Linked DNA regions of Homo sapiens. The protein of the gene in region 2 purifies or fractionates together with the protein of the main gene of each other region. This does not show direct contact. Each region holds a gene or a part of one and is shown on either strand. Other genes may lie near its edges.

Evidence for each region.
Region 1: the proteins of ACAT1 (region 2) and ABCB7 fractionate together in Homo sapiens (co-fractionation; one large-scale study listed by BioGRID). This does not show direct contact.
Region 3: the proteins of ACAT1 (region 2) and NIT2 fractionate together in Homo sapiens (co-fractionation; one large-scale study listed by BioGRID). This does not show direct contact.
Region 4: the proteins of ACAT1 (region 2) and PDSS2 purify together in Homo sapiens (affinity purification with mass spectrometry; one large-scale study listed by BioGRID and IntAct). This does not show direct contact.
Region 5: the proteins of ACAT1 (region 2) and TMEM65 fractionate together in Homo sapiens (co-fractionation; one large-scale study listed by BioGRID). This does not show direct contact.

Annotation. Positions count from the first base shown.
Region 1 is NC_000023.11:75,152,759-75,159,216, forward strand, and holds the start of ABCB7 (iron-sulfur clusters transporter ABCB7, mitochondrial), read right to left. Parts: upstream 3,526-6,458; 5' UTR 3,515-3,525; coding exon 3,347-3,514; intron 1-3,346. UniProt on the Homo sapiens protein: Exports glutathione-coordinated iron-sulfur clusters such as [2Fe-2S]-(GS)4 cluster from the mitochondria to the cytosol in an ATP-dependent manner allowing the assembly of the cytosolic iron-sulfur (Fe/S) cluster-containing proteins and participates in iron homeostasis.
Region 2 is NC_000011.10:108,125,780-108,131,661, reverse strand, and holds part of ACAT1 (acetyl-CoA acetyltransferase, mitochondrial isoform b precursor), read right to left. Parts: intron 3,777-5,882; exon of another isoform or gene 3,683-3,776; intron 3,020-3,682; exon of another isoform or gene 2,803-3,019; intron 2,560-2,802; exon of another isoform or gene 2,461-2,559; intron 1-2,460. UniProt on the Homo sapiens protein: This is one of the enzymes that catalyzes the last step of the mitochondrial beta-oxidation pathway, an aerobic process breaking down fatty acids into acetyl-CoA.
Region 3 is NC_000003.12:100,336,543-100,342,424, reverse strand, and holds part of NIT2 (omega-amidase NIT2), read right to left. Parts: intron 3,339-5,882; coding exon 3,220-3,338; intron 2,611-3,219; coding exon 2,490-2,610; intron 1,353-2,489; coding exon 1,264-1,352; intron 1-1,263. UniProt on the Homo sapiens protein: Has omega-amidase activity. The role of omega-amidase is to remove potentially toxic intermediates by converting 2-oxoglutaramate and 2-oxosuccinamate to biologically useful 2-oxoglutarate and oxaloacetate, respectively.
Region 4 is NC_000006.12:107,452,044-107,457,925, forward strand, and holds part of PDSS2 (all trans-polyprenyl-diphosphate synthase PDSS2), read right to left. Parts: intron 1-5,882. UniProt on the Homo sapiens protein: Heterotetrameric enzyme that catalyzes the condensation of farnesyl diphosphate (FPP), which acts as a primer, and isopentenyl diphosphate (IPP) to produce prenyl diphosphates of varying chain lengths and participates in the determination of the side chain of ubiquinone.
Region 5 is NC_000008.11:124,361,925-124,367,806, forward strand, and holds part of TMEM65 (transmembrane protein 65), read right to left. Parts: intron 1-5,882. UniProt on the Homo sapiens protein: Essential for maintaining proper cardiac intercalated disk (ICD) structure and function as well as cardiac conduction velocity in the heart.

The DNA.
Region 1 (6,458 bases), on a different chromosome or scaffold from region 2:
AAGCAATTCTCCTGTCTCAGTCTCCTGAGTAGCTGTAGTCACAGGTGCACGTGACCATGCCCAGCTGCTTTTTGTATTTTTAGTATGGACGGGGTTTCACCATATTGGTCAGGCTGGTCTCGAGCTCTTGACCTCAGGTGATCCACCTGCCTTGGCCTCCTAAAGTGTTAGGATTACAGGCATGAGCCACTGGGCCAGGCCGCTTCAGGTACTTTAAATGTCACTGAATCACCTCTCACCCTTTTCAGTTCCATGATCTATAATCCACTTAAAGACACCCTTATTTCTCTTGTAAGTTCTGTTTTTGTTGTTGTTGTTTGTTTGTTTGCTTGTTTTTGAGACGGAGTCTTGCTCTGTCGCCCAGGCTGGAGTGCACTGGCGCGATCTTAGCTCACTGCAAGCTCCGCCTCCCGGGTTCACGCCATTCTCCTGCCTCAGCCTCCCGAATAGCTGGGACTACAGGAGCCCGCCACCATGCCCGGCTAATTTTTTTTGTATTTTTAGTACAGACGAGGTTTCACCATGTTAGCCAGGATGAATAAGTTCTGTTTTCTATTCTTTTAGTATATTTTGGGACGACTGTTGAATAATCACTGTAGTTTCTTCATAGGCATCTTATATTGTTAAATTTAAATATGAACTAGAACCTCTAAAATATAGAATAGGAGGATTATTTCCCTAGTGTTGTTATTATATTCCCACTTCAGTTAATATGAAAGCCAGGAGTAAAGTATTTTAATTTTTATCTACTCTGCTAACTCTTAGCAGCCAATGGTGGAAGAGTAGGAAGGTGGAACTTGCTACTGGGAGAAATTAAAGCTCCCATTCTTGGTCCATGAGGTCAGACCAACAAATGAAAACAAAACAGTACCTATCCAAAAGAACTACCATATTCCACAACCCAGGTCTAGGGCATATACTGGGTGAGAAATACTTACAATGAATTCCAGTAATCACATACATGTGGGACTGTGTGTGTGTGTGTGTGCGTGTGTGTGTGTGTATATATATATATAAAATATATATGTGTGTGTGTATATACACATAAAAGTTCATGAAACAATACTTCACTTAAGATGTAAAAAGCACTGCTATTTTCTTTATATTCTACTGAATTTCATCTAAAAAAGTGCTAATCCAACCCACTAACATTATTTCATAACACTGCTCTAAGGTTCCTTTCAGCTCTAAAATATTATGCTATATACTAATGATCGTCCTAAAAGTATGAATTCAGTAATTATTTTGTAATCTTAATCACAAGTCACAAATTTGCAGGTACCTCAGGTTACCTCAGCTTCTACTTTGAAAACTTTGTAATCATTCCTTTCTCACCCTGTTTTAAAAAAAGGATGGCAAGAGTTCCATGCCTTTAAGAAACAGAAAACAAAGGTAACATCTTTCCCTTGTTTTGCACACTGAGGAAATGGTAACTAAAGGAAATGGTAGGATGTAAAGGACAGAGTGGAAGAAGGAAGTTGTGGAGATAGCGTTCATGGAAAGAGAGAAAGCTAAATTTGTATTGCCATTGCCTCCTCTGAGATTCCTAATAACTTCTCCTTTTCCCTCTTCCCCCTCATTCTTCCAGCTTAAGAAATTTTATCTTAAGATATCTAATTTTATCTAAGATAACATTTACAAATTTTATCTTAACTTCATCTGCCTTATTGGAGAACTACAGAACAAAAACCATTCCCAAGAGATCATGTGTTAGAAACTTTCAACCATAAAATACTTTAAAAACCTTAATGAAATCATCTAGATTCGCTTCGTTAGCCTAATCTGCTATTTCCTATCTTGAATGACTCACTACAGTCTAAACTACGTGCAGTTCTAGAAAAGGTCCATGTTCTCTCTGACTTGTGGGCCTTTGCACATGCGATTCCTTCTTTAACTGGCTAACTTCTAATTTTTCAGCTCTTGCCTTAGATATCAGTTACTTAAGGCAATCTTCACTACCTTACAATTAGACTTAATACCCCTCACATATACTGTCCCATACCTTGTACCTTTCCCATTATTACACAGCTCCACTATATTTTAATTGCCGATTAATTTACATATTTCCCACTAGATTTTAAGCTCTTTAAAGACAGGACTTATATTTTGTTTGCTCCTGTAGAGGTGTTCAATAATTACTGAATGAATTATAAATGTCATTCCATCAGCCTTCCACATGCTTAGTGTCATTCCCTATTCTCCCTGTTCAGAACATTCTCCCCAGTTCTATCACCAGCATGAAATACTCTTTATAACCTGGTCCTTAATTATCACTATTTCCTCTGGATGCCTATAGCCTTTATTGTACATACTATTCATTTGCTAATTAACCCACCACTGTGTTTTTCAGTTATTTTTGTAATGCATAGATCCAATCTCCTTAACTAAACTGTACAATCCTTGAAGGCATAACTGTATGTCTCTCTTAGTACCCTATCATCTAGCACAGGGCTATGTACAAGGTAGACGTTAAATATTTGTAGATGAAGAATCAAAATTTAAGAGGTTGTTTCTCATACAAAACTGACAATATTTTAAAGTGATAGTGATAAATACGTGGTGGCAATTAAACCTCTTGTCAATACACAGAAAATAAAAAGATATACTTTAGTACAGTTAAGTACAAATAATTTTTTAAAAAACCGTTCCTGAGTGAGAGGTAATAATGGACTCAAATTTTAGGAGGCACTACAACCATAGCTACATTCATAAGTTAAGGATAAGTAGCCTATGGCTTCCAAAATGACCTGTGCACAGAGAACATCACTGTATTTTTCAGATCTAGGACAGTCATATTTATACAAGAATTTAGGGCGGTCTATGTTTTGGAAAGATAGTTACGGTTTTGGCCTATCAAGAAGCACGCCTGTCAGCAAGGGAGTTAACTGGCGCCACCTGTTTATAGATAGCTTGCTGTCATTACAGTGCTCTCCGAATTGCTAATTCCAACTGAGTAAAATCTGAACCACAGATAAACTGTCCCAAATTCCATTACTAATTGGGGAAAATAATCCAGTCTTCCTCGTCTTTAGAAAGGCAAGCAGGCTGGGAATGGTGTCTACCCCAACTCTTAATATGAGAGAAAAACTATGACTCCGAGAGCCTCCAGCGCTCCAGGTGTCCTCTGCCCAGAACCTCCTGCCCCGTTTCCCTTTGCTGAACTCAAAGGTTTTCTTCTTCGCCCTTTCCTCAAATTACTGACGTTAATTTCCTTCACTTACTGCTGCTCCCAGTTAGCCATGACTTTCTTCTTGGTGCTCTCTCTGCCCCGAGGTCAGGAGGGCAACCTTTTCCCTACAGGTCCCCTTGCCCTTCACCCTATTCTTCCATGTCAGTGGCATCTCACCTGGTAGGCTCGAGCGGTTCCCAAGGCGCCGAGTTGATGTGGCCTCCACTGCGGACCTGAGCCGCTAACAGAGACTAAAGGCCGGATCAGAATCGCGGAGTGCCGGCGCTTTTCGAAAGCAGCCGCCGCGGCCGCCCAGCGCCAAGAATGCATCGCGAGCAGCGCCATCTTGAGCGAGGAAAGAGGAACCGAGAGAAGAGGATTATGGGACACTGGCGGACTGAATTCGGCTACCTTAATTGTCTCTCCTCTTCTTGTTTTCCCAGGGCCCCAGACCGGAAATGGATTCTGTTTGAAGATTCGGATGCATTCGCACAGCCTCTTTTATTTGTTTTTCCTTAGGGCCGAGCTTTGATTGTTTTCCTTACACAACCGGGAATATTGGAGTAACACTGTATTTTTCTCTTTTCCTGGAGTTGCCAGATGAAATACAGGATGCCTACCTAGTTAAGTTTCAATTTTACATAAACAACGAATCATCTCTTCGTGCGTGTGTCCCAAATATTGTATCTGCTAAATCTGTCAACCCCATCTTGTCTCTCATAATACTCTCTTACCTCCTCCAACTCAATGTCACGCTCCCCTCTCTCCATTTTCCCTATGCATATTCTTATCTTCACTCCCTTCTGAATTAAGGAAAGATTAAACTACAGACGTTAATTTCCCCTGGGAGGAGGCTTCAGCTGTAAGATTTACTGCTTTTCTGTCCTGTAAGGACTTTAACTTTGCTGATTGTTCTCTGTTGCGCAAACCTTGGGGCAGTTTTCCTTTGGTCTGTTGCTCGTGGGACAGTCTCACACACACACACACACACACACACACAGAGAGACTACAGACATCTTTACTAATTTTGTCACTCTTTCTAGCTCTTCGCTTTGGTTTTTGCAGCGTCCCTAATTCTTGAAAAATCGCTTAGGTTGGCTGAAGGGTGGTAAAGTGAAATGTATGGAGAGAAGACCATGTTTAAAGACAGGCTTATATTCTTTTGTCACCACTATTATCAAACAAAATGTCAAAATATGTTTACAGTTATCTAGGAAACTGCATTTCCAGTTGTAAATGTTACCTGAAACCCCGGAGACAATAATGCAGTTGCAATTTTATATTCACTGCTGCATTCTCCAACTTTTCACACAAAAGAGACAAATAATTATGGACTTCTTATGAAGAGGTACTTTGGACTAGTAAGTCTGATAAAGAAAAACAGAAATCTGTAGCCCATGCAGTTAGCTTTTTTGTTCTGGGATTCATTCAAGGGGATGCTTGAGCTAGTTATTTAAAGAAAAATAGAATTCAAGTTGAAGAGGTTGACTGGAATTACACGTAAAGAAGATGACATGTTAAAAGCAAGAAGGCATAAGAAAATATTTTCAGGTTCAGGAGTCTATGGAGTTTGGGAAAGTAGTAGGAGGTTAACCTGAGTGAACAGAGACCTGATGGTAAAGGGCCTTCTATTTCATTCTAAGAAGTTAATACTTTATCCTATAACCAGTGAAGAGTTTTAATCAGGAGAGTAACATGATCAGATTTATATGTCCATTAAGCTACTCTGGCTTAAGTGAGAAGGTTGGATTGGACGGAGTTCATATTGAAGTCATGAAGTTAATGCAATAGTTCAGTCATAAAATAAAGGCCTCAACCTAGCAGTAGCAGTGGCAGTAGATCGATTGCAGGGCAATTAGGAGATGGAATTGGCAAGACTTAGTGACTAATTGGATGTTTCTAGCTTATTATTGTATTGTTGACAGTAGATCAGTAATGGCTTCATATTAATGACTATATTGTCATCAACAAATATTTATTCAGCATCTATTCTGTGTTAGACAGCTACAGTATACATTAGAGAAACTCTAGACTCTACTAATGATTTCTCTTAGGGCTGAATATTGCCACTGAATCTTACCACCCAGTTGTAAAGTCTTTGAATGGAGCCAAATTATTTTTTTCCAAAAGTAGTGCTCATTGTAAGCCAACTGTTTTGATCAAAAAGTGTGAATAACATTGAAATACCCAAGTTGTTACTCTATGATGAGCTAAAGTGAGGCAAATATTTATTTGCCAAATAAGCCGAAGAAAATTTCCAGGGCACCCAGAAATAGAACGTGAGGCATAATAAGAGTTGCACACTGCTGGGGAAGAGCAGCAACAAAAAGGCCAACTCAGCCTGTAATAACTTGACACATAACTGTCTGACATAAATTAAAGAGACAGAGGTATACACAATAAAAGCTGCTATAAATAGCTGCTACAACCACAGATCACATGATAGCACTTTATGTATGCAATAATTAAATGTGTATAGTATTTTGTAACTTACAATCCGCTTTGTCATACCTTATTTCATTTAGTCCTCACATCGACCATGGAAGATAGGTATTATTTATTAATATGCCCATATTTATGAGGAAACTGAGGCTAAGAAAAGTTGTGACTAGGTCAGAGGCCACAGAGCTAATGGGATGGAGACCAAACCTAGGTTTTATGACTCCAAACATAGTGCTCTTTTCACTTAATAACACCTGAAATGTGGAAGAAACACTTGAGCAATTTAAGAAGGCCACAGTGGTCTTCTGTTTCTAAAAAATACCAGAACTTATTCTCACCTCAGGACCTTTCCACTTGCTTTCCCCTCTACCAGGAATATCTTTCCTGTAGATTTTTAAATGACTTTTTCTTATCTTTCAGGTCTCAAAACAAATGTCACCTGCTTAGAGAAGCTTTCCAAGAGAACCTTATCTGAAGAGGCCACCCCCTGTCCCCACCACTCTGTATCACCATTGCCTTGTGTTATTTCCCTTAAAATCTTGCTATTCCAATGTGATCCATGGACCACTAGCATTGGCATTACTTGAGAGGTTGTTAGAACTGCAGAATCTTTTTTAGCTATTTTGAACTATACAGTAAGTTGTTGTTAACTATAGTCACCTGCCCTACTGTACTATAGAACACTAGATATTACTCCTTCTAACTACATTTTTGTACCCATTGACCAACCTCTTTTCATTGTCCCCTCCCTTCTGCTCTTCTTACCTTCTGATAACCACTATTCTACCCTCTACCTTCATGAGATATACTTTTTTAGCTCCCACATATGAGTGAGAACATGTGGTAT
Region 2 (5,882 bases):
TCCAAGTCTTGGCCAGGCGTGGTGGCTCATGCCTGTAATCCTAGCATTTTGGGAGGCCAAGGTGGACGGATCACCTGAGGTCAGGAGTTCAAGACCAGCCTGGACAACGTGGTGAGACCCAGTCTCTACTAAAAATACAAAAGTTAGCCCAGCATTGTGGCACATGCCTATAATCCCAGCTACTTCAGAGGCTGAGGCAGGAGAATAGCTTGAACCCAGGAGGCGGAGGTTGCAGTGAGCCAAGATTCTGGGACTACACTCCAGCCTTGGCAACAAAGCAAGACTGTCTAAAAAAAAAAAAAAAAAATTCCAAGTCTTTCTTAAATATAGCTTTCTAAAATGTAGTTTTGAGTTAAAGCTAGGTTCTAAATTATTTAGTCTTAGAATCTAACAAGATATTTTCATTTTTTAAGATTGTTTTCAAGTAAAACTTGCTGTTTCTCCCTATCCACTTCCAACAATTGTCTGATTTATATGAGGCAAACACATCTCATATAAATATGACCTATAATAGCAGATAAATTATTTCTTAAAAAAGGAAAGAGTAAACATCTTGCCCCTACTACTTCTCAGTTCTTTCCACACTTCTTAGGAACAAATGTCAACAGTAGGCTGGGCAAGTGGCTCACGCCTGTAATCCCAACACTTTGGAAGGCTGCGGTGGGCATATCACTGGAGGTCAGGAGTTAGAGATCAGCCTGGCCAACTTGGCGAAAAAACCCCGTCTCTACTAAAAATACAAAAATTAGCCAGGCGTGGTAGCGGGCACCTGTAATCCCAGCCACTCAGGAGGATGAGGCAGAAGAATTGCTTGAACCCAGGAGGCGGAGGTTGCAGTGAGCCAAGATCACGCCACTGCACTCCAGCCTGGGAGACAAGAGTGAAACTCCATAATAAATAGATTAATTAATTAATTCTGACAACGCAGGACACAATTCAGAGACCTACTGATCTGAAATTAGACTATCAGTAGCTGGGCGCAGTGGCTCATGCCTGTAATCCCAGCACTTTGGAGGCCGAGGCGGGTGGATCATGAGGACAGGAGTTCAAGACCAGCCTGACCAACATGGTCAAACCCCGTCTCTACTAGAAATATAAAAGTTAGCTGGGTGTGGTGGTCCATGCATGTAAGCCCAGCTACTCAGGAGTCTGAGGCAGGAGAATCACTTGAACCTGGGAGGCAGAGCTTGCAGTGAGCCAAGATCACGCCACTGTACTCCAGCCTGGGCGACAGAGCGAGTCTCAAAAAATGATAATAAATTTAAAAAATAATAATTTAAAAACTTACAAAAAAAAAAGTTCCTACTTGTAGTAAACATGCCGGTCACTGCCTCTCCAAACACATGTCTTTCTCAAAGGACAACCCTAAGTACTTACAAGGTGACTCCCCTGCCTCTGGCCAGAGCTGATGGGATCAAGAATGGAATGGACTCACCCAAGCTAGGACCCAGAGAGACTGGGTCAGTTGGATGACGGTGGGGACTGGGACTGAAAAGTCAAAAGGGGCTGGAGCTGACCAGCCAATGCCACAGAAAAGCAGCGGTTAGAACAAAGAGAAAAGCCATGAATACACTGAGAAGCAAAAGAATGCAACATATATACTCAGAGACAGGAGAAATAGACCATGGCACACCACAAGAGGCAAAAGATGGCTTTGGTTAGTGATTTTCTAGCTTGGGTTCTGGCAGGGTCAGTTGCAATTTATTTTGTTTGAAAATTTTCATATATAAAAATAAAAAATAAACCAGAACTCCTGGACTCAAGCAATCCTCCTGCCTCAGCCTCCCAAGTATCTGCGACTACAGGCACACATCCCTGTACCCAGCCAGCTGCACTTTATTTCCTATCCTTGGATGTCCTAGTGCTTGCCCATTGTATCTCTTCAAAAAGTCCCCTTTCTGAAGACTCCTTAAAGAACTAAAACTAGAACTACCATTTGATCCAGCAATTCCACTACTGGGTATCTACCCAGAGGAAAAGAAGTCATTATATGAAGGCCAGGCACAGTGGCTCATGCCTTTAATCCCAGCACTTTAGGAGGCTGAGGCGGGCGGATAATGAGGTCGGGAGTTCAAGACCAGCCTGGCCAACATGGTGAAACCCCAACTCTACTAAAAATACAAAAATTAGCTGGACGTGGTGGCACACGTCTGTAATCCCAGCTACTCGGGAAGCTGAAGCAGGAGAATCGCTTGAACCCAGGAGGCAGAAGTTGCAGTGAGCCGAGATCACGCCACTGCATTCCAGCCTGGGCGACAGAGCAAGACTCCATCTCAAAAAAAAAAGTCGTTACACGAAAAAGACACTTGCACACGCATGTTCATAGCAGCACAATTTGCAATTGCAAAAATATGGAACCAGCCCAAATGCCCATCAATCAACAAGTGGATAAAGCAAATGTGGTATATATACCATGGAATACTACTCAGCCGTAACAAGGAATGAAATAATGGCACTCACTGCAACCTGGATGGAATTGGAGACTATTATTCTAAGTGAAGTAACTCAGGAATGGAAACACCAAACAGCTTATGTTCTCACTCATAAGTGGGAGCTGCGCTATGAGGACACAAAGGCATAAGAATGATACAGTGGACTTTGGGGACTCAGGGGAAAGGCGGGGGGTGGGGGTGAGGAATAAAAGACTACACATTGGTTTACAGTGTATACTGCTCAGGTGATGGGTGCACCAAAATATCAGATACCACCAATAAAGAACTTATTCATATAATCCAACACCACCTGTTCCCAAAAGCCTATTGAAATAAAAATTAAATTTTAAAAGTCCCCTTTCTACTTAGCTAGTTTGTTCCTTGTTTACTAAGCCACTTCTCTTCTTTCAAGCTTCTGGTCCAGTTTAATGGAATCTTCCCTGGTTCTCTCCACTTTACTCTGGATCCCATTTCCAGTTGCCTTTTCAAAGATGGCACAGTTATCCCTTCCTTCTCCTCTACATCATTCACCCCTTTTACTTCTGGATAATTCCATAAGCATACAAACAGGATCTGATTCCCCCCACCTAAAAAACAAAGTAAAAACAAATAAATGTCTCTTGACCCACATTCCCGAGCTTTCACCTCATTTCTTTTTGAAAAAAGGCTGGAGTGCAGTGGTGCGATCTCAGCTCACTGCAACCTCTGCCTCCCAGGTTCAAGCAATTCTCCTGCCTCAGCCTCCCGAGTACCTGGGACTACAGGCATGCGCCACCACGCCCGGCTAATTTTTGTATTTTTAGTAGAGACAGGGTTTCACCACGTTGGCCAGGCTGATTTTGAACTCCTGACCTCAGGTGATCCGCCTGCCTCGGCCTCCCAAAGTGCTGGGATTACAGGCATGAGCCACTGCACATGGCCTCACCTTACTTTAGTTCTCTTTGGCAAGAAAGGTTCTCCAGGTTACCTACAGTGTCTATTTGCTTGTCCTCACCTCCTCTTTACAGTTCAACCCACTCAGATCAGGATTTTATTTCTGCCAGTTTACCACTGTTGGTTCTGAGCAACATCAGCAATGTCTGTGTAGCAAAATCCAACTCGCTATAATTGTCTCACTTAACCTTTTAACACATCAGCAAGACTGGGCTCACCTTTCTTTGAGAAATATGCTGAGCAGTTAAGAGCCTGGGCTTACCAGCTCAGTATTCTTTGTTTGTTTGTTTTGTAGAGACAGAGTCTCACTATCTTACCAAGCTGGTCTCAAACTCCTGGGCTCAAGCGATCCTCCTGCGTTGGCCTTCCAAAGTGCTGGGATTACAGGCGTGAGCCACTGTGCCCTGCAAGCTGAGTATTTTTGAGCAAGTTACTTAGACACACTTACCTTGGTTTTCTTAAATACCCTCCACAGGCTGTTATGAGAATAAAATGAGGTAATATGTATAATCCACTGCAGAAACCCTTCCTTGTCTTGGCTTCCATTACAAACGTGGACTCCTTCCTACCTCATTAGTCATATTTACCTCAGTCTCCTTTACTATCTCATCTTCCCCTTCCAACCTCCAAGTGCTGAATGTCCCAGGGCTTTGTTCCAGGCCTCTTTTAATTTAACTTCACTATATCCTTAGTTATATCCAGTCCCATGGCTTTAAAAAGCATTTATGAGGCCGGGCACAGTGGCTCACGCCTGTAATCCCAGCACTTTGGGAGGCCAAGGCAGGCAGATCACGAGGTCGGGAGATAGAGACCATCCTGGCTAACACGGTGAAACCCCATATCTACTAAAAATACAAAAACAAAATTAGCCAGGCGTGGTGGCGGGCACCTGTAGCCCTAGCTATTTGGGAGGCTGAGGTGGGAGAATGGTGTGAACCCGGGAAGTGGAGCTTGCAGTAAGCCAAGATCACGCCACTGCACTCCAGCCTGGGTGACAGAGTGAGACTCTGTCTCAAAAAAAAAAAAAAAAGGCTTCTATGTGCTGATGATTTTCCAAATTTCTATCTCCAACCCTGACCTTTCAACTGACCACCAGACTCACACCCAAGCGCCAACCTGACAGCTGCAGGTGAATGTCCAAATCATAGCTCTCAATTTCCAACCCTAGAAAACCTGTTTGTGGCCAGGTGCAGTGGCTCACCCCTGTAATCCCAGCAGTTTGGGAGGCCGAGGGGGGCGGATCACGAGGTCAGGAGTTCCAGACCAGCCTGGCCAACATGCTGAAACCCCGTCTCTACCAAAAATACAAAAAAATAAAAATAAAATAAAATAAAAAAATAACAGGGCATGGTGGCACGCGCCTGTAATCCCAGCTACTCCAGAGGCTAAGGCAAGAGAACTGCTTAAACCCGGGAGGTGGAGGTTGCAGTGAGCTGAGATTGCGCCATTGCACTCCAGCCTGGGTGACAGAGAAGACTCCATCTCAAAAAAAAAAAAAAAAAAAAGAAAACCTGTTTGTTGCCGGTATTCTCAGGTGCTCAAGCCAAAATCATCCTTCATCCTTCCCTTTATTGCAATCCCTAAAATCCAGATACTGTGAACAGCGTCCAAAACATAACTAAATTCGTCCACTCTGCCTCATGTCTACTGCTGCCACCTAGTCCAAGCCACCATCTCTTGTTCCTATTAATGGCCTTCTACCTAGTTCCCTGCCTCCCCTGACACCTCTCTACAGTCCCTCCAGCTTTGAAAAATGTAAATCAGATCATATCACTCTACTGCTTAAAATAATTTAACAGCTTTTCATTGCTCTTGGAATTATATACAAATTCTTTACCTCATCCTCCAAGAACCTGCATGATCTGGCTCTAGGTTTTCTCTCCAAATTTACATCACTCTTGCTCTGTGCCAGCCACTGGCATCTCTTTGTTCTAAACCCTATCCCGATACCTCAAGGTCTCTGCAGTGTGCCTCTGCCAGTAATAGTCTCCTCAGGCCGGGCCTAGTGGCTCATGCCTATAATCCCAGCCCTTTGGGAGGCCGAGGCAGGTGGATCACTTGAGATTAGAAGTTTGAGACCAGCCTGGCCAACATGGTGAAACCCCGTGTCTACTAAAAATACAAAAATTAGCCAGGTGTGGGGGTGGGCACCTGTAGTCCCAGCTACTTGGGAGGTTGAGGTGGGAGAATCGCTTGAATCCAGGAGGCAGAAGTTTCAGTGAGCCGAGATCGCGCCGCTGCCCTCTAGCCTGTGCAACAGAGTGTGATCCTGTCTCCAAAAAAATCAAAAACAAAACAAAACAAAAAGTCTTCCCAGCTCTCCATGGCTGGCTCATTTTTATTCTTCATGTCTTTTCTTTTTTTTTTTTTTTAGACGGAGTCTCACTTTGTCACCCAGACTGGAGTGCAGTGGCGCGATCTCGGCTCACTGCAAGCTCCGCCTCCCAGGTTCACGCCATTCTCCTGCCTCAGCCTTCCAGGTAGCTGGGACTACAAGCGCCCGCCACCACGCCTGGC
Region 3 (5,882 bases), on a different chromosome or scaffold from region 2:
GGGAAAAAAAAGTAAAATGTCTCTATCCCTAAATTCAATCATATCAATAAGTGCATTAAATATAAATGGACTAACCACTTCAATTAAAAGACACAGATTGTCAGAATAAAGAAAAAATTAAGATACAATTATATGCTGTTGACAAAAGAGATCCACTTAAAATATAAAAACACATATAGCTTGAGAACAAAGAACTGGAAAAACCACGTACCAGCAAACATTAGGCATAAGAAGGCTGGAGTGGCTATAGTGATAGCAGAGATAAAGCAGAATTCAAGACAAGAGGTATTACAAGAAAAAAAAGAGATATTTCATAATGATAAAAGGGTCAACTCATCAAGAAGACTTAATGATACTAAATGTATATGATTTTTTTTTTTGAGATGGAGTCTTGCTCTGTCTTGCCCAGGTTGGAGTGCAGTGGCGCAATCTTGGCTCACTGCAGCGTCCACCTCCTGGGTTCAAGCAATTCTCCTGTCTCAGCTTCCTGAGTAGCTGGGACTATATAGGTGTGCACCACTACACCCAGCCAATTTTGTATTTTTAGTAGAGATGGGGTTTCACCATGTTGGCCAGGCTGGTCTTGAACTCCTGACCTCAGGTGATCCACTTACTCAGACCTCCCAAAGTGCTGGGATTACAGGCATGGGCCACTGCACCTGGTCATGTATACGCATTTAATACTAAAAAGATGGCAACTCTTCCCACAGTGTTCTCTATATATTCAATGAAATACTAATAAAAATTACTATAGGTTGGCTGGGCACGGTGGCTCATGCCTGTAATCCCAGCACTTTAGGAGGCTGAGGCGGGTGGATCATGAGGTCAGGAGATTGAGACCATCCTGGCTAACACGGTGAAACCAAGTCTCTACTAAAAATACAAAAAATTAGCTGGGCATGGTGGTGGGCACCTGTAGTCCCAGCTACTCGGGAGGCTGAGGCAGGAGAATGGTGTGAACCCAGGAGGCAGAGCTAGCAGTGAGCCAAGATTGTGCCACTATACTCCAGCCTGGGTGACAGAGCGAGATTCTGTCAAAAAAAAAATTACTATAGCTTGTTCCTTTGCAGAAATTGACAGGCTGAGTCTAAAACTTATATAAAAATGCAAATGGCCAAGAATAACCACCTGTGCCAATCAGTCAAAACCCTAATACATGTGTGATATAATGAGAGGGACTAGGGAACTTCATAGCAAATTTTTTTTCCACACATTGTTGCTGGCTTAGAGATAACAAATTCTTATGCCACACTTCCTACTTACCTTTCTATACTTTGCTAGTAAAGTTCCATCAGGCCCAAACACAGCACAGGTGTTATATAATTTCCCAGCATCCTCTTCAGGGATAGAGCCTTTCATTGAGAGAAGAAACATACCATAAGAAAAAGAATAGAGCAATTCTTTTGTGAGAAAGGGATAAAAGCCTGATAACTTGGGTCCAAAAATAAAGAACCTATCTTTTACGGTTTATTTATTCATTTTGTTTTTAGAATAAGGCAACACCTCATTCTATAATACAGAATAAGTATTCCCTTCTATGGGTTACTTAATCATGGTTTTTTTTTTCCTTCTTGAATATGATCTTTCAGAGATAAACTCCAGAGTGTAGATGGGATATGATTAGGTTAGATGCCAAAGACAGGTTTAAAAAATAACCAAACTGTTCCTGAAATTCAGCCATGATCTTGAGTAACACTTAATCTGTAACATTAGGGCAAAATGAGAAATTTCCCATTGCTTAACTTGAATTCACCAGGTTCTGCAACAAAACTGTGTCCCAAAAGATGAGAACGTAAAGTCAGAAGCCTCTCCATCACTGAATGCAGTTTCATCTCCAGGCTTCTTGCTTTGCCTTCATTTCTAATTCTTAATATATCATCATACAGAAAAAATTGTATTTGCTATATTTATAGAATTTTTCTGTGTTTATTTTTTATTTAAGCAAATAAAACCTTTAAACATTTATTCCAAAACCACAAAAATAAAGCTACCTTTATGTATGTGGCCTCTATGGAAAAAAATTTTTTTTCTCAATCCTCTATTAGTATAGTAAAAAACAGTCCTGGCATGATGGCTCACACCTGTAATCCTAGCACTTTGGAAGGCCAAGGTGGGCAGACTGCTTGAGCCTAGGAGTTCAAAACCAGCCTGGGCAACAAGGTGAAACTCTGTCTTTACAAAAAAATACAAAAATCAGCCAGGCATGGTGGCGCACACCTGCAGTCCTAGCTACTCAGGAGGTGGGAGAATCACTTGAGCCTCGTAGGGTGAGGCTGCAGTGGGCCATGATCACACCACTGTACTCTAGCACGGGTGACAAAGCAAGACCTCACCTCAAAAAAAATAAATAAATAAGAAAAAGAAACTCTCTGCTTCAGCTTCCCAAGCTGAAGCTTCCCAAGTAGGGAATACAGGCGCACGCCACCACACCTGACTCATTCAGATGTTTCTAATGTTTAGGTCATTATACCTTGTGGGTAGGAAGTTACCTCCAATGAGATATATGCTGCATTCCTTTGCTACTTCAGAAAGCTTCTGTGTGGATTCACCAGGAATTTTCTCTGCATATTCAGGAAAATATTTCGCTCCATATGGAGAATTAAAGCATTCCTAGAAAAATATTGGCAGAGAAAAAAAAAGATCAAAACACCCACCCATTTTAAAGTTCTGCTGTAAGAGGCCATAGCTGCTGCTTCTAGCTCTGCTTTCAGTCGAAGGGTTAAAACACAGCTAATAAGAAAAACACTGACATCTCAAGGGTAAAGAGCCTGTAGCCACAGGTAAGACTACAAAGCTAGCCTAGTGGGTTGGAGGAGACAAATCACAGGTGTTCTCCCAGAGCTCATTTAAAAAAAAAATGTTGGAGGCTTAGTGCTAAAACCAATATGTTCTGGTTCTATAAAGACTTAGTTAAATAAGGAACAAAGTATCCAAGCACTGAGTATTTTAGTTTTCCGTAAGTCCCTCAATATACTAGGATTTTGGCTTCCTCATCTGAACAAAGAGGAAGATCCAAAACCTAAAGACCTATGACCGTGTTGGCACATCCTATCTCACAAAGAACCTTGCTAAGGTCATCCTCCAGTCAGACTCGGAACAATCTATGGGCTCCAAGGGACACTGCTGGACCCCAGGATACAAGAGGACAACCAGAGCTAGCAAACACCGTTCTGCTTGGGTGTACAGTGGCTAGAACAGAATGGCTGCTCCCATACTGACCGGCAAAGAAACTATTTTGGCTCCTTGCGTTGCTGCCTCCCGGATGAAGCTACAAGCGCGAGTGACGTTATCTGATTTGATGGAAGAAATCTGAAGCTGGATGAGGGCCAAGCGGAAAGCTGAGAACAAAGACAAAAGAAAACAGCTATCAGAAGATCGAACTGCTGGATTCAGACAGAGCCATAGTTCTCAAATGGAAGGCAGTTATGTCCCCGGGGGGACATCTGACAATGTCTGAAGATACCTTTGATGCCACAACTGATGAGGTATGAGTGGCATCTAATGAATAGAGACCAAGGATACTGCCAAACATCCTACAATGCATAGGACAACCCCCTCCATAACACAACGAAGAATTATCCTGTCCAAAATGTCAATAGTCTAAAATCTATCTGGAGATAGAGCAATATCCATGGGCAAAGTCCCATGCCAGGCACAAGAATCTAGAGTGAACCAGCTTCTTACTACGCAGTGTAGGGAATGAAATGAGAATATGGCTTAAAGTAAAAAGACTGGGTTTGAATATGGTCCTGTCCCTTACTGTTTGTTCATGGGCCTCTCGTCTACCTCCAATCCATATACTGAGTATGTCCCAGCACAGAAAGTGTGATTCCTTGGAAGCTGCTCACATAATTCCCATGAGCAGCCCAGCTCATGGGAAGGGAAGATGTCTGTCTCAGTTTCCCCACTACTGGCTGGGTCACAGCACATCGATCCCGCTGCTGGCAGAGGGAAAACCTGGCAGCCAGTGAGCTGCACACATGCCTATTCACAGGACAGGGGTCCCAGGCACCTCTAAAAGTCTGCACTTACCCCATAAGTATTCATGTGTCCAAGAGAACATGATATTAAACAGCAAATAACACCATGAGAGGTTGAAAGAGATACTGCAGAAGGAAAAGCTAACAGCACTTTTCTCTTGCTATCTGAACAAGGGAACTGGGCCCCACAAATTATGTAGCCAGCCCTGACAAGGTCTGTGCTCAGCCCTGGAGCAAGGAGGTTGGGGGCTCTTCCAAGCTTATTTCTTCCTGGAGGTAGTAGCTATACATCATATTTGCTTTTCTTCTGTTCTTTAAAGTTCCCTTTTAGCTTTTATGATAATCACTTTCCATTAGCTAATATTTTTTATTTTGAGGCAGGGCCTTGTTCTGTCGCCTAGGCTGGAGTGCAGTGGCACAAACATGGTCCACTGCAGCCTTGACCTACTCAGTTCAGGCAATCCTCTTGTCTCAGCCTCTTATGTAGCTGGGACCACAGGTATGCACCACCATGCCGGGCTAATTTTTTAATTATGTAATTTTTTGTAGAGACAGGGTCTCACTTTGTTGCCCAGGCTGGTCTCGAACTCCTGGGCTCAAGCGATCCTCCTGCCTCAGCCTCTCAAACTGCTGCGATTATAAGCATGAGCCACCACGCCTGGCCAGATAATAATTTTTTATATAAAATTTTCCGCCGGGTGTGATGGCTCACGCCTGTAATCCCAGCACTTTGGGAGGCCAAGGCAGGTGATCACCTGAGGTCAGGAGTTTCAGACCAGCCTGGCCAACGTGGTGAAACCCCGTCTCTACTAAAAATACAAAAATTAGCCAGGTGTGGTGGTGGGCACCTGTAATCCCAGCTACTCAGGAGGCTGAGGCAGGAGAATCAGTTGAACCTGGGAGTTGGAGGTTACAGTGAGCCAAGATCGCGCCACTGCACTCCAGCCTGGACGACAGAGTGAGACTCAGTCTCCAAAAAAATAAATAAATAAATAAATAATTTTCCTTGTTCGAGTTACTAGTGTTGTTTCCATGTCCTGTCTGGACCCTGATGGATACATAGTTCCTGCTTATGGTCTGGTGGGACGCAGCAGTAAAGGATCCAAAGCACATTATAATCTATGAAGCTCTGCAAAACTTCAGGAATTATTAGTGTAGGGAAAAGAAAGAGCGATCAGATTATTACTGTGTCTGTGTAGAAAGAAGTAGACATAGGAGACTCCATTTTGTTCTGTACTACGAAAAATTCTTCTGCCTTGAGATGCTGTTAAACTATAACCTTACTCCCAACCCCGAGCTCTCTGAAACATGTGCTGTGTCCACTCAGGGTTAAATGGATTAAGGGCTGTGCAAGATGTGCTTTGTTACAGATGCATGAAGGCAGCATGCTCCTTAAGAGTCATCACCACTCCCTAATCTCAAGTACCCAGGGACACAAACACTGCGGAAGGCCGCAGGGACCTCTGCCTAGGAAAGCCAGGTATTCTCCAAGGTTTCTCCCCATGTGATAGTCTGAAATATGGCCTCGTGGGAAGGGAAAGACCTGACCGTCCCCCAGCCCGACACCCGTAAAGGGTCTGTGCTGAGGAGGATTAGTGCAAGAGGAAGGAACGCCTCTTTGCAGTTGAGACAAGAGGAAGGCAGGCATCTGTCTCCTGCCCGTCCCTGGGCAACGGAATGTCTCGGTATAAAACCCGATTCTATGTCCCATCTACTAAGATAGGGAAAACCGCCTTAGGGCTGGAAGGGGGACAGGCGGGCAGCAATACTGCTCTTTAAGACATTGAGATGTTTATGTGTATGCATATCTAAAGCACAGCACTTAATTCTTTACCTTGTTCATGATGCAGAGACCTTTGTTCACGTGTTTATCTGCTGACCTTCTCTCCACTATTATCCTAT
Region 4 (5,882 bases), on a different chromosome or scaffold from region 2:
ACAAAGTCTTGCTCTGTTGCCAAGGCTAGAGTGCAGTGGTACAATCATAGCTCACTGCAGCCTTGAAGTCAAACTCTTGGGTTCAAGGAAGCCTCCTGCCTCTGTTTCCCTAGTAGCTGGGATTACAGGCATGCACCACCGCACAAGCTTTTTCCCCTATTTTCTAATTGTATTGTTTGCTTTCTTGAGTTTAGAGAGTTCTTTTTTTTTTTGCAACAGAGTGTCACTCTGTTGCCCAGGCTGGAGTGCAGTGCCGCGATCTCACTGCAACCTCTGCCTCCCAGATTCAAGTGATTCTCCTGCCTAAGCCTCTGGTGTAGCTTGAACTACAGGCACCCACCACCACACCGGCTAATTTTTGTATTTTTAGTAGAGACAGGGTTTCACCATGTTAGCCAGGCTGGCCTCAAACTCCTAGCCTCAAGTGATCCACCTGCCTCGGCCTCCCAAAGTTCTGGGATTACAGGCATGAGCCACCGCACCCAACCTCTTGAGTTCAGAGATTTCTTTACATAACCTGGATACAAGCCCTTCTTTGAATATGTGATTTGCAAATATTTTCTCCCAGTCTGTGGCTAAACTTTTCACCCTCTTTACAGGGTCTTTCACAGAGCTAAGTTTCAAACTTTTTTTTTTTTCTTGAGACAGAGTCTCACTCTGTCTCCCAGGCTGGCTTGCTGTGGCGCAATCTCGGCTCACTGCAACCTCCGCCTCCCAAGTTCAAGCGATTCTCCTGCCTCAGCCTCCTGAGTAGCTGGGATTACAGGTGCACATCACCACGCCCAGCTAATTTTTGTATTTCTAGTAGAGATGGGGTTTCACCATGTTGGTCAGGCTGGTATCGAACTCCTGACCTTGTGATCTGCCCGCCTCGGCCTCCCAAAATGCTGGGATTACAGGCGTGAGCCACCACGCCTGGCCAGTTTTGAACTTTTATGGAGTCCAATTATTGTTTTCTTTTATGAATTTTTTGGTGTCATGTCTAAGAACTGCTTACCTAGCCCTAGGTCCTGAAGATGTTATCCTATGTTTTCTTTTTTTTTTGAGACTGAGTCTTGCTCTGTCGCCCAAGCTGGAGTGCAGTGGTGCAGTCTCGGCTCACTGCAACCTCCACCTCCTGGGTTTGAGCGATTCTCATCTCAAACTCCTGACCTAAGGTGATCCACCCACCTTAGCCTCCCAAAGTGCTGGGAATTCAGGCATGAGCCACTGCACCCGGCCGTGATATTATCCTATGTTTTCTTCTGAAAGTTTTATAGTTTAACATTTCATGTTTAAATCCATTTTAAGTGGACATTGATTTCACAAATAATCCATTTTACATTGATTTTTAAAAAATACTGTGTGAGGTTTAGGTCAAGGTTCATTTTTTTGCCTATGATGTTCAATTGTTCCAGCCCTATTTTTAGAGAAAGAAAAAAAAAAACTATCCTCCCTCCATTGAATTGTTTTTGCACTTTTGTTAAAAATCAGTTGGGCATATTTGTGTTAATCTATTTCTGGGTTCTCTATTCTGTTCCATTGATCTGTCTGTTCCTCTGCCAATACCGCAGTGTTTTGATTAATGCAGCTATATAGTAAGATTTAACAGTAGGTGGAATGATTCCTCAACCCATGCTTTCTTTTTCCAACATTTTAGTTATCCTAAAATGTTCTAGTTTTTACTATTCTAGCTCTATTCATGCTGCTTATCCTTGCTTTTAAGGTCTTCCCCATACCTAGTAGAGGTATGGTAGCCTGGAGAAGAAAGGGGAAAAAAGAAAGAATCATGAAGGAAAAAAACAAATATTATATAACTACTACCCTAAAACATTACTCATGTAATTTTTATCCATCCATCCTTCAATGGAGTCCCAATTTCTCCATGAAAGGTTCTCTACTATTCCAAGCCATCTCTCTATGTGGTAGCTCATTAACCACAAGTCATTTGTTTCCTTCTGTTAGATATTTGTAAATATCTTTTGTGTCAACTCATCAAGGGACAGGGTCCATGTTTCAGACTTCTTTTTTTTTTTTTTTTTTGAGACAAGGTATCACTCCATTGCCCAGGATGGAGCACAGTGGCACGACCACAGCTTACTGCAGCCTCGACCTCCTGGGCTTAAGGTATCCTCTCAGCTCAGCCTCCCATGTAGCTAAGACTGCAGGCATGCACCAGCAACCCGGATAATTTTTGGTATTTTTTGTAGAGATGGGGTTTCACCATGTTGCCCAGGTTGGTCTCAAACTCCTGAGCTCAAGCAATCTGCCTACCTTGGCCTCCCAAAGTTCTGGGATTGCAGGTGTGAACCACCACACCTGGTCTAGACTTCTTTATATCACTTCATAAGTTTCAATAAACATTTAATTAATTATTTATCTAATTATAGTTTACAACAGAGAGATCCTAGAAAATCTAGATGAACAAGAGTAACAATGAGCTAAATGCTCCTCTATTCCTAGTAACAGAATCATTATCTCACCAAACCTCAAGATTTTTAACCTCATTTCTCATTTAGTGTTAAAGAATATATGTCACATCTAGGCTGTTTTTCCCTTTTCTTGACAAGATGTCTTAGGTAAAGAGATCAGTGAATAGCAAATTATGGTGGTTTCCTTTTTTTTTTTCCTGCTGTTTGCTAACAAAGTCACCATTCACGTAAACTTTAGGGCTATTAGACATGATTCACCCCTAACATACCATGTAGCTTTATTCGAAAAGTAAATGGCTCCAGCCTGGGCAACAGAGCAAGACTCTGCCTCAAAAAAATAAAAATAAAAAAACAAAAAAAATACAGCTGCTTAATCCTTGATTTTAGTTATAATTTACAATAATCATTACCTGCTTAACCTCTGGATCAAATGCCTGCTCCTTTGCTGAAATAACTGTGTACAGTGTATATACAAATATATACAGATACATATCCACACCCCAAAAGTTTCTTCATTGGCTGTCTATGAGTTTAGGCTGTTTAAATAATTTGCAACACATTATTGTAGTAAATAGAATAAAATTATATGCAGATTAGCTCTTTCTTTTCTTACAAAATACAGCAACACATACATGCTAGGACAACTTTGCAAAAACTTACTTATTCTGTGCCTTTCCAGTTCTGTCACTGTACTATAGTACTACAAGGCAGGTTAGGCAACAATTAGGAAAGTTTCAGAACCATTAGTCTCACAAACTTTCATCTAGGATGCCTCTGGTGGCCTCTGAAGAGATCTTCTCCAAACCCTCATCTGATGCTATTGCAACTAAGTAGACGAACTACGGTTCTCAGAATATACACATTAATAAGGCTCTTTTTAGCTTCACCCTTTTCACTTCTGTGCTTTATGATGGACTACAATACTCATAATGCAATACTACAGCCCCTATCATTGACACTATCATTTCCATCAAACACAAAGAAACCTCCTTCTGGATTACCAAAAACTAAGAAATCTGGGCCAGGCGCAGTGGCTCATGCCTGTAATTCCAATACGTTGGGAGGCGGAGGTGGGCAGATCATGAGGGCAGGAGCTAGAGACCATCGTGGCCAACATGGTGAAACCCCTTCTCTACTAAAAATACAAAAATTAGCTGGGCGTGGTGGCACATGCCTGCAATCCCAGTTACTGGGGAGGCTGAGGCAGGAGAATTGCTTGAACCAGGGTGTCAGAGGTTGCAGTGAGCCGAGATCAGGCCACTGGGCACTCCAGCCTGGCGATAGAGCGAGACTCTGTCTCAAAAAAAAAAAAAAAAAAAAAAAAAAAAACTTAAGAAATCTCTTAGTTCTAGTGTTATGAGAACTAGGAGTAACCTGAACTCAGAAGTTGTTTATGAGAGTATAAACTGGTACATTCACTTTAGAAAGCATTCTAAAGATAAACATGTGCACATCCAACAATTACGCTCTTGTTTTTATATCCTCGTGACATGAACACCAAAAGATATGCAAACATATTTATAACAGCATTTTTCATAATATTAACAAATGCAACAACCCAAATGTTAATTACAAGATGACTGTGAGGCCCGGCGTGGTGGCTCACGCCTATAATCCCGGCACTTTGGGAGGCTGAGGTGGGCAGATCACGAGGTCAGGAGTTCAAGACTAGCCTGGCCAATATGGTGAAACCCTGTCCCTACTAAAAATACAAAAATTAGCCAGGCATGGTGGCGGGCGCCTATAATCCCAGGTACTTGGGGGGCTGAGGCAGGAGAATTACTTGAACCCGGGAGGTGGAAGCTGCAGTGAGCCGAGACTGTGCCACTGCACTCCAGCCTGGGCAACAAGAGTGAAACTCTGTCTGAAAATAAATAAACAAACAAAAGATGACTATGGTATATTCACACAACAGAATTTCACACACAGTAAAAACCTAATGAACTACAGTTAAACACACAACATGGATGAATCTCAGAAACCATGAATTTTAAAAAGGAAGTCACATAAGGTCATATGCAATAAACTATCATATTTGTACATTGCAAAGAAACCAGTAAAATGAAACATTATTATTTAGAAAAATAACAATGTAATTTTACTTATTTCATTTTATTTTGAGACAGGGTCTCTTGCCCAGACAGGTGTGCAGTGGCACAATCACGGCTCACAACAGCCTTGACCTCCCAGCTCAAGCAATCGCAATCCTCCCAAGCAGCTGGGACTACAGATGTGCATCCCCACGCCCAACTAATTTATTTTATTTTTTGTAGAGATAGGGTTTTGCTATGTTGCCCAGGCTGGTCTCGAACTCCTGGGCTCAAGCAATCTTTCTACTTTGCCTCCCAAAGTGCTGGGATCACAGACATGAGACACCACACCAGGACCCCTGGTAATTTTGAAAAGGAAAAGTGTTTAAAAACAGTTTAGTGGGAGTCAGGGAGATGGACTGAGGAGTACACATTTAGCTTCAACAGGACTGGTAAAGTTACAATTCTTAAGTTGGGTAATAGTAGGCTTATTCGTTTCATTAAGCTTTAAACATATGTGTATGTGTTTTGAGTGTGTATCATCTAGAATCTCTGGAAAACTAACATTCCAGCTAATCATAAGGTGACATTCCTGATAACTGGGAACGATGCCAAGGAATAAAATCACTTTATTATTACTATTTGATAACTTTTGTAGTAAGAAAATGACAGGTGCCTCGAAAAATTAAAGCAAGGGGTGGGTAAGGGAAGTGAGTGTGGCTAAAAAAGCAACATGAGGAATCCTTATAGTGCTGAATATGTTCTTTATCTTAACTGTATCAACATAAATACCCTGCTTATGATATTACACCATCGTTTCAAAAGATGTTACCATTGGGAGAAACAGGGTTAGGTGTATATTAGATTTGTGTTATTTCTTCCAACTGCATGTAAATCTAAAACTACTTCAAAATAGAAGTTTACTTTTAAAAACAACAATAGAAAAAGGTCCTTTTAGTCCTGGATTTCTCCACCTTGGCACTACTGACATTTTGCAGCACCTAATTATTTCTTGTGGGTCTGTCCTGGGAATTGAAGGGTAGCATCCCTGGCCTCTATCCACTAAATGCCAGTAATGTGCCTCCATTCGTGACAACCAAAAATGTCTCCATACATGCCAAATGTCCTCAGGGGGGGAAAATTGCCCCAGTTGAGAACCAGTGCTCTAGTCATAAAAGCCAAGAAGAGATATGAAAATGTTCCTAATTGAAGAAGATGAAAGAGATATAACAACTAAACGCAATACTTGATCCTGGACTGAATCCTGTCCTGGAGGGTAAAGAATGCTATAAAGAACATTATTAGGCCAATTAACAAAATTGAAATTAAATGGTAGATTAAATAAAAGTATTGTATCAATATTAAATATACCTAAGTTGGTAACTGTAGCGTACTTACGTAGGAGATTACTGCTATGCTTAGGAAATACATACTGAAGTAT
Region 5 (5,882 bases), on a different chromosome or scaffold from region 2:
TTATAGCCCAGGCTGGAGTGCAACGACAGGATCTCGGCTCACTGCAACCTCTGCCTCCTGGGTTCAAGCACTTCTCCTGCCTCAGCTTCCCAAGCAGCTAGGATTACAGGCACCCGTCACCACGCTCAGCTAATTTTTTGTACTTTTAGTAGATTCGGGGTTTCACCATGTTGACCAGGCTGGTCTTAAACTCCTGACCTCAGGTGATCCACCCGCCTCGGCCTCCCAAAGTGCTGGGATTACAGGCATGAGCCACTGTGCCAGGCCAAGATATGTTTTTGATAAGGAAAGTTGTAAAAAGCATGAAAATGTGTATTTGCTGAGAAAAAATAATTTCATCTATCTAGTTTAGAAGATATTTGAAGGTTGTTTCAAAATGAAGGAATTTTTTAAAAGATACAGATAAAACTAAATTAATATAGCAAGGTGGAAAAAGAAAGAGAATAGAAAAAATTGGCTGGTCGCAGTGGCTCATGCCTGTAATCCCACAACTTTGGGAGGCAGAGACTGGTGGTTCACTTGAGGTCAGGAGTTCAACACAAGCCTGGCCAACATAGCGAAACCCTGTCTCTACTAAAAATACAAAAATCAGCCAGGCATGGTGGTGTACGCCTGTAGTACCAGCTACTCAGGAGGCTTAGTCATGAGAATCGCTTGAGCCCAGGAGGTGGAGGTTGCAGTGAGCCAAGATCATGCTATTGCACTCCAGCCTTGGTGATAGAGCAAGACTCTTGTCTCAAAAAAAAAAAATAGAAAAAATGCTAAGAGATTATAAAAGGTTTATGAAAATCCAATTTGTTTATAAGCTTTTAATAAAATTAGCTGTAGTTTTAGTATTGGTAATATACTAATACAAAAGTAAAATTTGGTTTTCTCTTTTGAACAAGAATTTTGTGTAGTATTAAGAAGAAAGAAAGAGTAAATGTGTTTGTTTACCTTTTAAGTAAACTGCAAAAAAAGAAAGAGGGGAGAGGAGAGACAGATTCCATCTCATGCTATCTATTAGGATTTCTGATTGTGTGGAAAATAGAGTCAATCCTCTATCGAAGAATAAATGGTTTTGCTTTTAAAAACCTTTTAATTACCACTTTGGCTAAAGGTATGACAATTATTTTACAGTGATCTTTGATCCTATTTTGATTAAGTGCGTTAAATCTTTGACAAATTTGATGCACTTCCAAAATCAAATTTCAAATTGAAAGTTTAGTCTTTTGACCTCAAACTAACTTTGAGACGTTACACAGAGGGTCCTTGCAGCATCCAAGAGAGAGATAAGAAACAAGCTTATCTGGTAAGTTAAATTACATGGGAAGCATTGTCAAATAAGAAATGATGTTTAATCTTCTTTGAGTTATAGTTTATGGATATGTTACTAATATATAGTCCAAAATTGTATAAGCCTCCTAAAATTCTGGTGTGTCTTGGTATGTTATCAGTCCTAATTATGGTGATTATTTTAAATTAATTATTGTAGGCCACAGAAATAACCAAATTTTCTTGTCAATTGTGTCTTTAACCATGACCATTTTAAGTCATTTCCACAGTTAACTGCTTAATTCTGATGCATTTTCAACCAAGCAGCCTGTTCATTAATCCCCTACAACTGAATCTCCATAATACCTGATGTAGACATCCATGTAAAACAAGAAGCGCCTGTAATCCCAGCACTTTGGGAGGCCGAGGCGGGCGGATCACGAGGTCAGGAGATCGAGACCATCCCAGCTAAAACGGTGAAACCCCGTCTCTACTAAAAATACAAAAAATTAGCCGGGCGTAGTGGCGGGCGCCTGTAGTCCCAGCTACTTGGGAGGCTGAGGCAGGAGAATGGTGTGAACCCGGGAGGCGGAGCTTGCAGTGAGCCGAGATCCCGCCACTGCACTCCAGCCAGGGCGACAGAGCGAGACTCCGTCTCAAAAAAAAAAAAAAAAAAAAAAAAAAAAAAACAAGAAGTATCAACAACTGCACAGATTCTTCCCCACTTAGCCAGTAGGTAATCTAGAGCAATTCTATTATCTAGTACAACTTTAGTAAGAGAATGTAAAGGATTTTGTTGTGCAACCATAGCCTTTGCAGTAGAATCTACTATAAAACCTATTATGAGGGATATTATCAAAGAAAGATCTTTAGTACAAGAGCTAGAGTCAAAAATCAATAATAATGTGATAGATGCAACTAGTTAGCTGAAAACACAAAAGAGAACAGTGATCCTTGAAATGTCTATCAAGATTAAACCCTGCTGAAAAGCAAAGGGAGGAAGTAAAAAGACAGGAAAAAGAAGAAAATTAAACACAATGGAAGAGTGACAATTGGCAGAAGTAAAATCAGACTTTAGAAACAATAACAGGATGTCATGAAGCAGACCTCCTTACACAGCAGAAAAGAGTTTACCATAACTACAAGGAATGAATGAGAATAGAGTAGAAAAGTCTGAGAGCACTGAGGAGGAGGGAGGGGCAGACTAAGCCCAGCACATTTCACTACCACTATGACAGAGTCTAAAAAGCATGCCAACTGAAACAGCAGTGTTCTGGAGGCATTTGGTGTAATGATTAGCATGTCTACAAATAGAAGTAACCTCAAAGAAACTTATTGTATTAAAATATAGTATATAAGGACTCCGACATCTGGTAGAAGCTAAATTATGCTCATTATATTTTTACTAAGGCAGATAAAAAATGCAATATGTTCAAATATTTTATCATCAAAAGCAATCAAAGTAAATGTCTCAGAGCTTAGGAGAAATGATTTTGTTACCTACAGTCTTTTATCTACAAGAACCTCTTATTTACTCTTACCTCTTATTGTCTGTCTGAGGTAATTTTAATATATAACTACTTGTTTTTATGTGTTTTCCTTTACTTAAAGCAGACATAAACCTGTGAGTCAAAGACAAGGCTACAGTCCTGTAAAGCTACATACTAACTAATTCAGATGACTTGGGCAAGATGCTAATAAAATCTACACTCAAGGATTTAGTCCCTATTTGTTCAAGTTATTTTATACCCAGACACACCAAAGGAAACCAGACAAGAGTGTGGTTATGCAAACTCATCACTATTTTTAGAAAAATGAAAACAATCTCCACTAATAATGGCAAAATATCACATCATCTCAAACTTTCAAGATCGTGATCTGTAGTTCCACCTGACCCTCTGGATGACCCTATAAATTGCTGACTTTATATTACTTCAATTTTCCTATCCACAAATTTGATCATAACAATTTGTCACAAATAAAAAATAGGCAATAAATGACTATTAAGGTGAAAAACAGCAAATTAATTACTGATAAATTAAACTATACATATAAGTGTTTGACTTACCTGGAAGCCATATTTCCCAAATTTCTAATATTTACAATTTAGTCAAGAATTTAGAAGTGAAGAGACAACACAATCAAGGAAAACAATTACCCAAAAGTTTATTTAATAGAGAGGTGAAGAGTCTGATAAGGAATCACCTTTCTGTCCTCCTTTTAATTTCCCTTCCCTTGAATCTGAACTGGTTTTAGTGACTTGCTTGACCATTACATGCAGCAGAAATAATGTTCTGGAACTTCAAAAGCTAGGTCATAACAAGTCTGTGGTAGGATGAATAATGGCCCCCAAAGATATCCCACATTCTAATTCCCTAACCTGTATATATGTTACATTATATGGCAAAAAGAATTTTGCAAGTGTAATTAAATTAAGGATTTTGAGAGAGTGAGATTATCCTGGATTATCCAGGTAAAACCTAAATATAATCATGAGGGTTCTTATAATAGGGAGGCAAAAAGGTCAATGAGGGAGCAGAGATTTTAGTGATGTGTCCAGGAACCAAGGAATCCCAAAAGATGAAAGAAGCAAAGAATACATTCTGCCCTGGACTCTCTAGAAGGACAGAGCCTTGCTGACACTTTGATTTTAGTCCTTTAAGACTTATTTTGGACTTTGTACTTTGACAACTCTAAGAGAATATGTTGTTTTATGCCACTGTATTTGTGGTGTTACAGCAGCAATAGAAAACTAATACAGGCCGGGCGTGGAGGTTCACGCCTGTAATCTCAGCACTTTGGGAGGCCGAGGCAGGAGGATTGCTTGAGGTCAGGAGTTCCAGACCAGCCTGGCCAACCTGGCAAAACCCCACCTCTACTAAAAATACAAAAATTAGCCAAGTGTGGTGGTGTGTGCCTGTAGTCTCAGCTACTCAGGGAGGCTGAAGCAGGAGAATCGCTTGAACCCGGGAGGCAGAGGTTGCAGTGAGCCAAGATCACACCACTGCACTCCAGACTGAGTGACAGCACGAGACTCCGTCTCAAAAAAGAGAAAGAAAACTAATACAAAGTCTTACAGCTTCTACCCAGCCCCCTTGGAACATTTTCTCTGGGATCCCTGACCTAAGTATTACAACCATGCTAACATTGTCATGCTGGTGAGGCCACATCCATCTCCTTGGGTCAACAGTTCCAGTTGAGGCCAGCCCTCCAGCCATCCACCAAAGTACCAGACACATAAACAAACCGATGTTGGACCTTCTGACCAGACCATCAGCCAGCCAAAGTTTATGTAATGACCTCCATAGATACCATAAGAAACAGCATCCAGCTGAGCCCTGCCTATATCCTTTTTTTTTCAATTTTATTTTTTTATTTCCTATGAACTCTGTACCTGCAACTGCCTATATTCTTGATCCACAAAATCATGAGCTATGATAGAAGGGTTGTTATTTGAAGTCACACGTAACTCTGGACATGTTATATGTAAGTGATGATTAAACACTGTTAAACAGCATATATGCCTTTCATAATGGAAAAAAAAAAACTTTACTTGATTACTTGATTATCTGTCTTCTACTGGCAGTAATCCCTAGTAATAAGACCATTCCAACATACCCCGTAACTCTAAAGAACTCAGAATTAAGCTTGCTGAAATATACTACTGTAATTAGGTTCTTTCCATATTGGTAAAATAACTGATTGTAGCAAAGCTTCATTTAACTGAGTGTAACTCAACTTATAGAAGCCCATGGCTCATCAGAGATCTCTCACTCCTCTTGCCTCAATTCATACTTCTTATCCACGTCCTTGTTCTTCCCCTCTTGCCGGGCCTAGGTGGGGCTATACTTCCCTTATTCCTTTTTACTATCTCAACAAAGGCACTGAAATATCTTTATTCACGTATCTTTATTTGCAGTATAAAATGTTTTTCTTGCCCTTTTTCTTATTGGACAAAAGCAAACTATTCCCAATCCATTCCAGAGGCTCATAGCTTAAAATAATTTATATTTAGGCTAGGCACGGTGCTCACAGCTGTAATCCCGGCACTTTGGAAGGCTAAGCTCGGTGGATCACCTGAGGTCAGGAGTTCGAGATGAACCTGGCCAACATGGTGAAACCCCACCTCTACTAAAAATACAAAACTTAGCCAATCACAGTGGTGCATGTCTGTAATCCCAGCTTCTCAGGAGGCTGAGGCAGGAGAATCGCTTGAACCTGGGAGATGGAGTTGCACTGAGCTGAGATCGCACCACTGCACTCCACCCTGGGCAACAGAGTGAGACTCTGTCTCAAAAAATAAAAAAAATTTAAGAAAAGAATTTCTATTTTCTCACATAATCCTGAGCAATGGGCTGAAAAAAAATAAGGATAATCTTGTTAAAGGTCCAAGATCTCTAGTGAACAGGGATTCCATAAGAAAGCCTAATTTATTTTTAAGTGTTTTAGATACTCAATTTAGTATAAGCTCTTTATCTTTCAGTCTTTCATTTTGTCAACGTCCTCTTATACTATATGGCAAGTTCTCAAAACAAAGCTCTTCACCCTACCTTAAACAATCACAAAAAATGGGGGACTACAAGATTAAAGTTTAGAATTATTTGGTTAATGTATACAGACGTAGATAA